2 separate regions of the Homo sapiens genome follow, and region 1 is linked to region 2. The links come from fine-mapping of genetic effects on plasma protein levels. A gene starts in region 2. The other region holds a variant in brackets. All regions are shown on one strand. Distances are between the middles of the regions. Region 1 overlaps XXYLT1 (xyloside xylosyltransferase 1). Region 2 holds the start of XXYLT1 (xyloside xylosyltransferase 1).

Region 1 (2,889 bases), 200 kb after region 2:
TTTGTTTAAAAAATCCCCTTATCATACCACGTTAGACCGTAGACCTTAGCAGAAATTAAAGCGTCATTTCTTTTGATGGGGCCTCCTGTACGTAGGCTGCAGACGTGAAAGCCCCAGGGGTCCATTTGTATCAATTTTCATCTTGTTTTGTTTTGATTTCATTTACGTTTTTCTTTTTCCCATGAGTGAGGATAGC[C/T]AATAAATCATCTTTGAGAACATGGTGATTCATGTTGTTTGTTCTCTGATCACAGTTTCAGCTGCATGAAGGCTCTGAATCAAGTGTGTACTCAATGCCATTGGAATCCCCACCTCCCCTGATGAAGATGAGTGCTTACAGGAGATCCTAAGGACCAAGGAGAGGGCACATCTGAGAGGGTGTCAGAGAGGGTAGTATTGGCATGTTTGGTTCAAAGCAAGGAATCATTTCATTCTAGGTATTGGCAGGTCCACCTGCACTGGGGAGCAAAAGCATCCCCATTTCTTCTCATCCCTCTTACCCTAGACTGCCCAGTTACATCCTGCCCTGAAGAGGTGGAGCAGATATCTTTCCCAGCCCTCTGCTGTGACAGAATTGGTCTGTTCTCTCACCTACTTGATTTCCTATTTATAGGTAACAATTCTTGAATGCCTGCTGTGCACCAGCCATTGTATTGGGGGATTTATTACGCTATTGATAATGTTTATGAAAACTTCATGAAGGTCATTATGTCTAAAGTCGACTGTAAGAAAATGTGAGAGATGTGGACAGAGTCATATACTATATGTTTATCACATTTTTTATAGTAGAAGAAAATTGGAAGCAACTTAAAATGTGAAAAAGAGGGGCCAGGCGCGGTGGCTCACACATGTAATCCCAGCACTTTCAGAGGCTGAGGCCGGCAGATCTCTTGAGCCCAGGAGTTCAAGACCAGCCTGGGCAACATGGCAAGGCCCAGTGTCTACAACTATACAAAAATTAGCTGGGCATGGTGGTGCACGCCCAGCTATTCAGGAGGCTGAGCTGGGAGGATCACTCAAACCCAGGAGGCAGAGGCTGCAGTGAGCTGAGATCACGACACTACACTCCAGCCTGGGGGACCGGGCAAGACTCTGTCTGTCTTTAAAAAAAAAAAAAAAAAAAAAAAAAAAAGAATGGAATAGGTAGATGAATAATATGCTTCATCCATATAACAGAATACTTGAGGCATTATTCGAAGAATATGTAATGCCTCAGGAAATACTTAGAATGTGCTATTAAATAAAGAATGCAAAATGTAAGATCATATGTTTAATACGATCCTATTTTTAAAATTACATATATGTGTATGTATATCAGTGTACACACGTGTGTATAGATACATACCTACACACACACGTATGTATAAAAAGAGCATCTATTCTGCTGTATTTCAACTTCTAAAAACATAGGTGTTTCAAACACCACATTAAAAAAACAATTATTTCAACGGGAAAAAAGTGAGTTAAAGGCTAAAGAATTTTAGACTCACAATAATAAAGGTATTTTCCCTGCAATCCTTTCTATAATTAAAATGTGTCTATAGCTATGTGTGTATTTTGTTGTTGCAAGAAAAAAACAATAAGCTGGTTGGTCAAAATGGGCAAAGGCCAAACAACATCCCTCATTTACTTTTAAGTAAACCTCTCAGGAGCTTCCCCTCTGTCACCAGTGGCCTCGACCTTCCAACCCCCCAGTGCACAGCAGACTGTCACTGCACAGGCACCCCAGCCCACCCACAGATCACACCCCAGCCCGCTGACAGATCACACCCCAGCCCGCTGACAGGTCCCACCGCAGCCCACCAACAGATCCCACCCCGGCCCGCGGACAGATCACACCCCAGCCCGACAGATCACACTGCAGCCCACCAACAGATCACACCCTGGCCCATAGACAGATCACACCCCAGCCTGCTGACAGATCACCACATAGGCACCCCAGCCCGCCGACGGATCACCACACAGGCAGCCAGCCCACCGACAGATCACTCCACAGCCTGCCGACAGATCACACCCCGGCCCACCGACAGATGACTTCACAGGCACCCCAGCCCGCCCACAGATCACCGCACAGGCACCCCAGCCCGCCCACAGATCACACCCCAGCCCCCCGACAGATCACCGCACAGGCACCCCAGCCTGCCCACAGATCACACCCCAGCCCGCCGACAGATCACACCCCAGCCTGCGGACAGATCACTGCACAGGCACCCCAGCCCGCCCACAGATCACACCCCGGCCCGCCGACAGATCACTGCACAGGCACCCCAGCCCGCCCACAGATCACACCCCAGCCCACTGACAGATCACACCCCAGCCCGTCAACAGATCACACCCAGCCCACCAACAGATCACTGCACAGGCACCCCAGCCCGCTGACAGATCACACCCCAGACCGCTGACAGGTCACACCACAGACCGCCAACAGATCACACCCCGGCCCACCAACAGATCACTGCACAGGCACCCCAAACTGCCCACAGATCACACCTCAGCCCACCGACAGATCACTGCACAGGCACCCCAGCCCGCCGACAGATCACACCCGAGCCCGACAGATCACACCCCAGCCTGCCGACAGATCACTGCAGAGTCACCCCAGCCCGCCCACAGATCACACCTCAGCCCCCCGACAGATCACTGCACAGGCACCCCAGCCCGCTGACAGATCACACCCCAGACCGCCGACAGATCACACCCCAGACCGCCGACAGATCACACCCCAGACCGCCGACAGCTCACACCCCAGCCCGCAAACAGATCACCGCACAGGCACCCCAGCCCGCTGAGAGATCACACCCCAGGCCGCTGACAGATCACAGAGCGCCGACAGATCACACCCCGGCCCGCCAACAGATCACACCCCGGCCCGCCAACAGATCACACCCTGGC
Region 2 (2,890 bases):
AGGTGCAGAGATTAAAGTTTTACCTCTTGGTGCCTCCAGCTTCGCTTTTGGCTAACCTAAGTTCCTCTGTTCGGGCGCCTCCATTCCCTTCAACACTCAGCTTGGATATCCTCTGGGGCTCGCCGCGTAGGGCGCCATTTCTCAGCCGGGACAGCGGGCCAGCCCTCAGCACGCTGGAGTCCGGAATCCCCCCCTCCCAACGCCGGGCGCCGGATCCCACCCTAACCCCTCCTCTAATACCCTTGGAACCTAGGACCCAGCGGTTTCGGCACGCCCGGCCCCGCCCCTCCGCGCACCGGCGCCCGCGATTGGCTCCAGGCGGCGCGGCCCCGCCCCTTTCATGGCCGCCGCCTGGCGCCGGGGCTAAGTGGCCGCCGGCGTCCGGGTACCCGAGGGCTCTCCCGCGTTGCTGGCACCGCTGGCGCCGCGGTCTCGTAGCGCATGGGCCTCCTCCGAGGCGGGCTCCCATGCGCTCGGGCCATGGCGCGCCTGGGCGCTGTGCGCTCCCACTACTGCGCCCTGCTGCTGGCCGCGGCGCTGGCCGTCTGCGCCTTCTACTACCTCGGCTCAGGCCGGGAGACCTTCTCCAGCGCCACCAAGAGGCTGAAGGAGGCCCGCGCCGGGGCTCCCGCCGCGCCCTCGCCGCCCGCGCTGGAGCTAGCGCGGGGCTCCGTGGCGCCAGCCCCCGGCGCGAAGGCCAAGAGCTTGGAGGGCGGCGGTGCCGGGCCGGTGGACTACCACCTGCTGATGATGTTCACCAAGGCGGAGCACAATGCCGCGCTGCAGGCCAAGGCCCGCGTCGCGCTGCGCTCACTGCTGCGCCTCGCCAAGTTCGAGGCGCACGAGGTGCTTAACCTTCACTTCGTGAGCGAGGAGGCCAGCCGCGAGGTGGCCAAGGGCCTGCTGCGGGAGCTCCTGCCGCCCGCCGCTGGCTTCAAGTGCAAGGTGAGCGGGCCGCGGCTGGGGGCTCCCGGTGGGTGGCCCACCCCATCCTAGGCGAGGTCAGTTTGCGCTCCCGGAGGGGATCCGGGGAACTAGCGGGTAGGATCTTCCCTGAGCTGCCCGCTTGCAATGTAGTGTTCACAACCTGCGGGAGGGCTCGTTCGGGGGCGTGTCCGGGAGCCAGACGCCCTCAGCTGGTGCTGAGGAGTGGAGCTGCGTTTTTAATGACCGCCTCGTTTTCCTCTCCCCCAGTTAAGCGCAGCCCCCAGGAGAGTCCGCGCGCCCCCATTTTGCTAACGTTGCAGGGTTCAGCACTGCCTTCAGAGTCTGCACCTCTGTTTATGTTCCTCAGTTTTTGACTTCTGAGGATGGGACTGGTCACCAGTAGTCATCCTGAGCAACTGGAGAGGGCCTTGGTGAGGCCTCTGGAAGTGTTGAAGTTGCAGTGACACTTCTCATTGCTCTTAAGGTATTTCAGTAGGATCTGGTCAAACTCATTGTGAACCATCTTATCTCCTCTCTGTGTCCCTTTTTCCCCTTCCTCCAAGGGTCATGAACCCATTTAGAGAAGCCTGGAGTTCCTCCGAATGAGGAAGAGAAAGCTCAAGAGGAACAGATATGATCTGGGGAGAGCACAGCTGGCCGCCTTGTCCCAGGCTGGACCAGTCTGCCTCCATGACAGCTTCCATCTCTGTTTATCATCTGTCTTCACTGCCTGGCTCTCCTTGTCTGAGATGTGTTTCTGACATAGTGTGAATTGCCTAGGTCAAATTGCTTATTTGATTTTGACCTAATAGTTGTACAGAGGGGATCCGAGGCCAGATTTTAAGGAGTAGTAGGTAATATTAAAGGGTGGAGACTGATGTTGGTTGGGGAAGCATGCTGAGACAGGAGTTGTATTATGTGAGTGACTAGGGGAGCTGTTGCCAGGATCCTACAGGCTTCGGGAGTCTCTGATAGCTCCTTGTTGCCTACGGGGTGAAGTCCCAGTTTATTGGTAGGGCTGTTGTGTTGTGAGCCTGGTCCACTTCTCTGGCTTCACCTCTCCTCCTTTGTCTACATGCACCTCATACCTTAGCTATGTAGGGAGTGGGCCTTATACATGCTGTACTGTCTGCCCACAGTGTCCTCTTGGGCCCTTGGCCATTCTTTACTCAGCTTTCACCTCTCCTGAGAAAGTCCCTAGACCCTGGGACCTCTGAAGGTCCTCGCTGGAGGAGGAGCCTGGCAACCTGTCCCAGGTGATCCTAATGACCCTAATATTTGAGAAACTTTGCACTAGTTCACGGTAGAAAACTGAGGGCCCTTGGCCATAGGGTCAGTCTGGGCAGATCTTGGGATTTGACCAGGTCTCCAAACACCGCCTTGAAGATAGCATTGTCATCTCTTCTGGGCCTACTCTGCACCGTTGCCGGATCTCTGTCCCCTTGTCCCCAGCTCCCGCTGCAGCGCTAGCTGCACAGCCAGTGCTTTCCAGCCTACTTGCCTTTGCTTTTGTCATTCCCACTGTTGGGGTGCTCCTTCTCTCCATCTCCAAGTCTTGCCCATCTTCAGATACCATCCCCTCCTTGGAGCCAAGGAAGCGTCCCTTCTTTCCTTTTCTACTTCCCTGGTGCTGTGACTGTATCATGTCTTATCATCCATCCCTATGTACAATGCCTGGCACTCTTAGTTGGCACCAGAAATATTGGCCCAGGGGTAGATCCAGCCTCAGGGCCGAGCCCCTCCTGTCTTGGAGTAAGTGTTTCATGCTCGGACTACCCCACTTTACTGGGCCCAGTTCTGGCAGCCTCACTCAAGGCCTGGAGGCAGCTGCAAATGACCAGAGGGAACTGATACCTCCTCTGTTGAGGGGTGAGGGTTTAGTGTCTGGGGACTTCTAGCCAGATGTCAGTGATTGGATAAGGGGTTATCAGTCCTGGCATAAAATTGCTCCCGTTACTTCTTT

Evidence for each region. PIP is the posterior inclusion probability: the model's chance that the variant is causal. Protein levels are from the aptamer-based SomaScan assay of Sun 2018.
Region 1: its variant is fine-mapped to the plasma level of the XXYLT1 protein (Sun 2018, PIP 0.95).

What each region holds. Positions count from the first base shown.
Region 1 is chr3:195,065,611-195,068,499 of GRCh38, reverse strand. XXYLT1 (xyloside xylosyltransferase 1) reads left to right here. Exons shown (of 4, transcript NM_152531.5): 4 at 1-216. Among named protein-coding and RNA genes, the nearest start is that of XXYLT1-AS1, 28 kb to the left of the region's middle. RefSeq lists an enhancer at 1-168. The variant C/T (reference allele first, on the strand shown) is at 197.
Region 2 is chr3:195,268,610-195,271,499 of GRCh38, reverse strand. It overlaps XXYLT1 (xyloside xylosyltransferase 1), which reads left to right and starts at 341. Exons shown (of 4, transcript NM_152531.5): 1 at 341-945. The coding sequence starts at 442. RefSeq lists silencers at 191-720, 881-1,060 and an enhancer at 311-1,102.